2 separate regions of the Homo sapiens genome follow, and region 1 is linked to region 2. Evidence: fine-mapped expression QTL. A gene starts in region 2. The other region holds a variant in brackets. All regions are shown on one strand. Distances are between the middles of the regions.

Region 1 (2,899 bases), 30 kb before region 2:
CCTTGTTCTGAGAAGCACAGAGCCCATGTGTAAAGAGCTGATTTCAATTTTACCTGCAAAATCAGAAAAATATGGGACTCATGTTAGAACCTGTCTCTCAAGACTGGCGCGAGGTTGACACGAGAGAGTGTATGGTCAGTCGGCCCTCCCTATCCGCAGGTTCCACATCGTGGATTGCAGATTGAAAATACTCAGATGCAGAGCCCGTGATACAGAGGGCCGACTGTATAAGTTCAGAAGAGGACCTGGCGTCTAATAAATGCACAACAATAATAGTATCAATACTTATTATCACTATTGTGGGTCTTTGCTCTGAAGATAAAGGGAGAAGTGATGGTTTTAGGGAATCGTTTGGGGAGTGGAGGGTGCTTCCCCAGATATCTAGGAAGTGGAGAATGACAGGGCCTTGTGTCATACCTGGAGGCCAACTCTGAGCCCCCCACTGGCTGCTCCTAAAGGGAGATTTGATAAGCTACCACCAGCCAGAATATCTCTGCTGCTGGGATTCACTGGTACTGTTTGCCTTTGGGGCAAAGTTAGCTGCTAGCGCCCAGTCACAGCACTTCCTGTGCTGCAGGTGACAACCTCCTCCAGCGCCATCTGAGCCGTCCGAGTCTAGGTTCTCTAGGTTTTGCATGAGCCGTCACATCTCCTGCATGCTCTTTCCCCTTTCTCTCTAACCCCAGAGGCCCCACCCCTGCCAAACCGGTGGATCCGTGTGTTCCCCCAGCCAACTGCTGCCATTTACTGAGGCCTGCTGCGTATTCAGCACATGGATGACGCCAAATCACAGTTTACTAAGAGGAACGTCTTGCCGTTTCCTGAATGCGTCTCATGCACACTGGCCTCTGCTCATGCCCTTTCCTCTGCCTGGAACACTTTTTCCATTGCTCTTTCGGGGAATCTTCTTCAAGATCCACCTCCTCTGAGAAGCCCGCCCTGACCCCTACGGTTGGACCCTGAGCTCTGGGTGTTGACCCAGAGCCCTGTGTGCTGGGTCCCTGGGAGTCGTGCCCTCTGGCCTGGATGCTCGTTTGGGTCTTGACCCAGCCTGATTCATCTTCATGATCCCGTGGAACCTGGCACAGGAGGTGCCAGCCAATCTCTATTTGATTTTTGCAAACCTTTTCTTGATGTATAATTTACCTATAGAAAAGCACAGCTATCTTAAGTGCACACCTTGGTGGGCTTCTACAAGGTGAACACACCCATGTGACCTCCACCCAAACTAAGAAATCAGACCAGCACCCAGAGGCCCCTAGAGCCCCCGCCTCGCCACTGCCCCGCCCCCACTGACTTCTGCCTGTCTATGTAGTTCTATAATACATACATCTGTAGAATTACGTAGAAATGAAATTCTGCAGCGCGTGTTCTTTTGTGAGCACTTCTTTCTCCCAACGTTATGTTTGGGAGCTTCGTCTGTGTGGTTGCGGGTAGCTAACTCATTTTTTCCATTGCTGTGTATACTCCATTG[T/A]ATGAATCTACCACAATGCATTTGCCTGTTTTCCTGCAAAATAACATTTGGATTGATTCCAGCTTGGGGCTGTTACAAATAAGGCAGCCATGGCCACCAGGCTCCGTGCTGGGTGTCCACACACAGGCACCTGTGCTGCTCAGTTGATCTTTCTGAATCACTGTCTTCAATGATTTACTTCTCACACCCACTCCAGGAGGTGGATGGATTCTTCTCTCCCTTCTACAGATGAGGAAATGTTACAGATGAAGTAACATGGCCAGGCCAGGATCCCACAGGGGATCAGCGGCTGCACTGGGGTTCTCACTGAGGTCTGTGAGCCCCAGAGCCCAGTGGAGGGAGGAGGGGATGAGGTGGAGGCGGCGGGTGAGGACGAGAACTGCGGAAGAGTGAAGAGGAGAGAGAAGCCAGGCTCTGGGGAGCTGCAGGCAGCCAGGCCGGGCTGCTGCGGAGTGCGTGGCCCCAGGAATGGGGGCGTCTGGTGGTATCTGGGCTGGCTGGAGAGGTGGTTGGGGAGATAGTGCTCTTGGGGGGCTGGCCCCCACTGAGCCCTCATAAGCTCTGACCAGAAGCACAGGGTGGGGAAGGGGAGCTTCCTCTTGATGGTGACACATCTGACTCCCTTCTCACATCCTCCTCCCAGGCAACCCAGGGAAATCAGGGTGGGCAGGTGAGGTTGAGGGGACTGAGCTTCAGGGAGGGGCCATAATAATAATGATGATGGCAGAAGTGTGAGGCTGTAGGACACAGGGTCAGGGTGGAGCAGCCCTGAGGGGGAGGGGCAAGGGAGGGCTCTGGCACTTGGGACCCATATGGCAAACTGCATTGTCTGTTGGGAAGGGTTGAAGACAAGCCCGGGCCTGTCTTCTTGTGCAGCCTCTGTCCTGGGCTCGCACATTTGGTAGGAGGAGCCAATGAAGTAAACGGATAGGAAAGTGTCCACACTCTGGCTGGCACGGGTGTGTGCTCACTGACGGCTGGGTCCTTTCTCTATAACCTTTACCTCCCTGAAAATCTCAGATGGTGGGTCTCCGCCTGCCTGCTTCTGAGACGGTGGGTCCTGGGCCTCAGGGAGTGAGAGAGAGTGGGCCTGCTCTCCTGCAGAAGGGACTGGTCTTTGAACCCCAGAATCGGGGGTTCTTGTGTCATCACCACCATCCACATGATATTCCTTATCACCATCCTATCCTGATGTCCCCATTGCCGTCACCCCCATCACTGTCACCAACATCACCAACAGCATCTCTGATCATCACTGTCATCACCACGCCAACTCCAACAACATCCCAACAGCCACTCCCCGCCTCACATGGTCACCATGGCCAGTGCCTCCCAGGTGACACCTGGTGCACTGTTTTCACCGCATCCCCTCTGGTACCGCCATCCTTATTGCCCAGCCATGTTCAATACTGACCCCATTGTCCC
Region 2 (2,899 bases):
GGGAGTAGGGACTCGAGGAGGCAGTGGGCCTCGGGATGGCAGCGAATAGTCACAGCTAGATTTTCAGAGCCAGGAGCCCAGGCCCCTGGAGAGGAAGAGATTGTACAAAGTCACTCCCCAGGTAGCCCAGGGTAATGATGGTAAAAATAATAGTTGCCCCTTCTGGCTTCTAACCAGGAGTCATCTCACTCAACCTCACCACAACCCTTTTTACAGTTGAAGACACTGAGGCTCAGGAAGGTGACCTGTAGCTTGTGGAGCTGCATTTCTAAACACGGCCTGTCTCAACTGCCTGTCATCAGGACAGGGTGTCAGGACCTGGGGCTAAGGATGGGACCCAGGAATCAGAAACAGACCCAAGTCAGAAGCAGAGAAGCAGCAAAGCGGGACTGGATGCCTAACCCAGACTGGGCAGAGCTGGGAGCGCCCTAGCCTCAGGGCGGGTGCAGACAGGGGGTCACGAAGCCGGATCTCAGTGACAGAGTCCGCCACCTCTTTCTTTCCAGGGTACAGACCAGAGGAGCCTAGTGGGAGGGGAGCAGGCAGATTCTTTCCCTCTCTGGCAGGGGCATGTATCATACCGGGGAGTGGAGGAGGATAAGGGCGGCATCTTTCTTGGGTTGGTCCCTTGGGCATCCACATGGGAGTGGCCCTCCGTCGGTTCCCTGGTCCAGGGTCCCCGGTCTTACCGGGACAAGGACAGCAAGACGGGAGACGGCAGCCCCATCCCTTAGCTTCGGCTGCCATCTGGTGGCCAAAGCGCAGAACTGCACCATGTGGAACCACCGGATCCCCCCACCCAGCCCCGGCCGGGCCTCCCGGGGGCACGAGGGGCGTGGCACGACTCCCACAGCCATCAGCCTGAGGACCCTGCCCTCAGCCGCCTCAGTCTGAGGGGAAGGCATGGCCCTGACCTTAGAGACCCCAATTTGGCGATGGGGCATCACATCCCTCCGGGCATCTCAGAGCTGCCTGCCCGAGGGAGGCGAAGCAGATGGAAAGCCCCCCAGCCACGTCTCTCAGTCAGAGGAAACGGGTCTCCTCTTCGGCCAGCCGGGTCCTCTTCCCCCGGGTGCCGCCTGGCTGTGCGACCCGGCAGTCCTCCCGCCTCTCCGGGCCTCAGCCTCCTCTCCTGGACAGTCCCGTGGGCTTCCGGGAGCCCGGTGTCACACCGCCCCGCGTGTCGCAGGTGGTCATCGTGGTGACAGACGGGAGGCCCCAGGACAGCGTGCAGGACGTGTCTGCGCGGGCCCGGGCCAGCGGCGTCGAGCTGTTCGCCATCGGAGTGGGCAGCGTGGACAAGGCCACGCTGCGGCAGATCGCCAGCGAGCCGCAGGACGAACACGTCGATTACGTGGAGAGCTACAGCGTCATCGAGAAGCTGTCCAGGAAGTTCCAGGAGGCCTTCTGCGGTGCGCGGGCAGGCGGGGGCGGAGCCAGGGCAGGGGCGGAGAAGGGGAGAGCGGCGGGGCGGGGCCAGGGCTGGAGGCGGGACCGAGGCTGAGGCGCAGACGGAGCCAGCGCCGGCGCAGGGCAGGGGCGGGGCCGGGGGGGGGGCAGAGGCGGAGACGGGAGAGAGATAGAATGTCAGTGCCGGGGCGGGGCCGGGGAGGAGCCGGGGGCGGAGGCGGAGACGGAGAGAGTCAGCGCCGGGGCGGGGCAAGGGTGGGGCCAGGGCAGGGGCGGAGACGGAGAGAGCGGCGGGGCGGGGCCAGAGCAGGCAGGGGGCGGGGCCAGGGCAGGGGCGAAGACGGAGACAGTCAGTGCCAGGGCGGGACCGGGGCGGAGGCGGAGAGAGTCGGCTCCAGGGGCAGGGCCAGGGCTGAGCGGGACGAGGCCGTGGCAGGCGCAGAGACTGAGAGTCCGCGCTGAGGCGGGCCAAGGCTAGGGGCGGAGCCAGCGCTAAAGTGAAGACAGAAAAAGTCAGCGTCGGGGGGCGGGGCCACATCAGAGGGCGGGGCCTGGCTGGGGCGGTAGCCTATAAAACGGCGGGAACTGAGTTACACGGCAACATCAGGGCGGGGCCAGGGCTAGGGACACGGCTTAGGTGGATTGGGGGTGGAACCTGGATTAGACTGAGGTGGTGCCAGCACCAGGGGTGGGGCCGTAGCTGGGGCGGAGCCTGATAACGGAGGAGGGTCTCCAGCCCCAGGTTAAGGGAGTTGGGGAGAGGCGATGTTAAGAGTCCTTTTATGGCCGGGCGCGGTGGCTCACGCCTGTAATCCCAGCACTTTGAGAGGCCGAGGCGGGCGGATCACGAAGTCAGGAGATCGAGACCATCCTGGCCAACATGGTGAAACCGGTCTCTACTAAAAATACAAAAAATTAGCCGGGCGTTGTTGCGGGCGCCTGTAGTCCCAGCTACTCGGGAGGCTGCGCCAGGAAAACGGCGTGAACCCGGGAAGCGGAGCTTGCAGTGAGCCGAGATCGTGCCACTGCACTCCAGCCTGGGCGACAGAGCGAGACGACTCCGTCTCAAAAAAAAAACAAAACAAAAAAAAAAACCGCACACACAAAAAACAACAGAGCCCTTTTATGTGGCAGAATCCTGGCAGGGACCAAGGAGGGCCCAGAGCTCAGGAAGGAGAGCTCCCAGAAAACCTACACATGTTTCTGTGTCGTGAGTTTTGGGTGCCAGAGTTTTCTGTGATGCGGGAGAGTCTGAGAGGCCTGGGCACTGGCAGGAGAAGGTTCAGAGCCCTTCTCGGAGGGGAGGTGTGTGTGTGGGTCTTTGGGATGTGACCCGCAGGGGCAGGGTGTCCAGTAGGACAGGATCAGGGTTAGGGCAGGGACTTTACCCATTTGTAAAATGGGTCTAAGAAGAGCATGCACGTTATTGAGAGGATCCAGTGAGATAATGCAAAATGTAACCCTCATTATATGGTATTTGACAGATAGG

Which allele goes with the higher level. Alleles are on the strand shown, and positions count from the first base shown. SD is a standard deviation of normalised expression in the study named.
For the expression in spinal cord of the gene that starts at base 1,375 in region 2, A is the low allele of the variant in region 1 and T is the other (moderate effect, 0.44 SD a copy in GTEx).

The links. PIP is the estimated chance that this variant, and not a neighbour inherited with it, causes the effect.
Region 1: its variant is fine-mapped to the expression of MATN1-AS1 in spinal cord (GTEx, PIP above 0.99). The same link has a PIP of 0.9 or more in amygdala, caudate, cerebral cortex, hippocampus, prefrontal cortex and putamen.

Annotation. Positions count from the first base shown.
Region 1 is chr1:30,747,720-30,750,618 of GRCh38, reverse strand. The region is part of intron 1 of LAPTM5 (lysosomal protein transmembrane 5); the gene reads left to right. LOC105378620 (a long non-coding RNA gene) reads left to right here. Exons shown (of 2, transcript XR_007065566.1): 1 at 1-275; 2 at 687-2,899. Among named protein-coding and RNA genes, the nearest start is that of LAPTM5, 8.6 kb to the left of the region's middle. RefSeq lists enhancers at 1-115, 522-571, 672-751, 1,680-1,859, 2,180-2,489. The variant T/A (reference allele first, on the strand shown) is at 1,475.
Region 2 is chr1:30,717,248-30,720,146 of GRCh38, reverse strand. MATN1-AS1 (MATN1 antisense RNA 1) reads right to left here and starts at 1,375. Exons shown (of 4, transcript NR_034182.1): 1 at 582-1,375. MATN1 (matrilin 1) reads left to right here. Exons shown (of 8, transcript NM_002379.3): 3 at 1,190-1,412. RefSeq lists silencers at 763-852, 1,413-1,932, 1,973-2,152 and enhancers at 510-1,085, 1,183-1,352.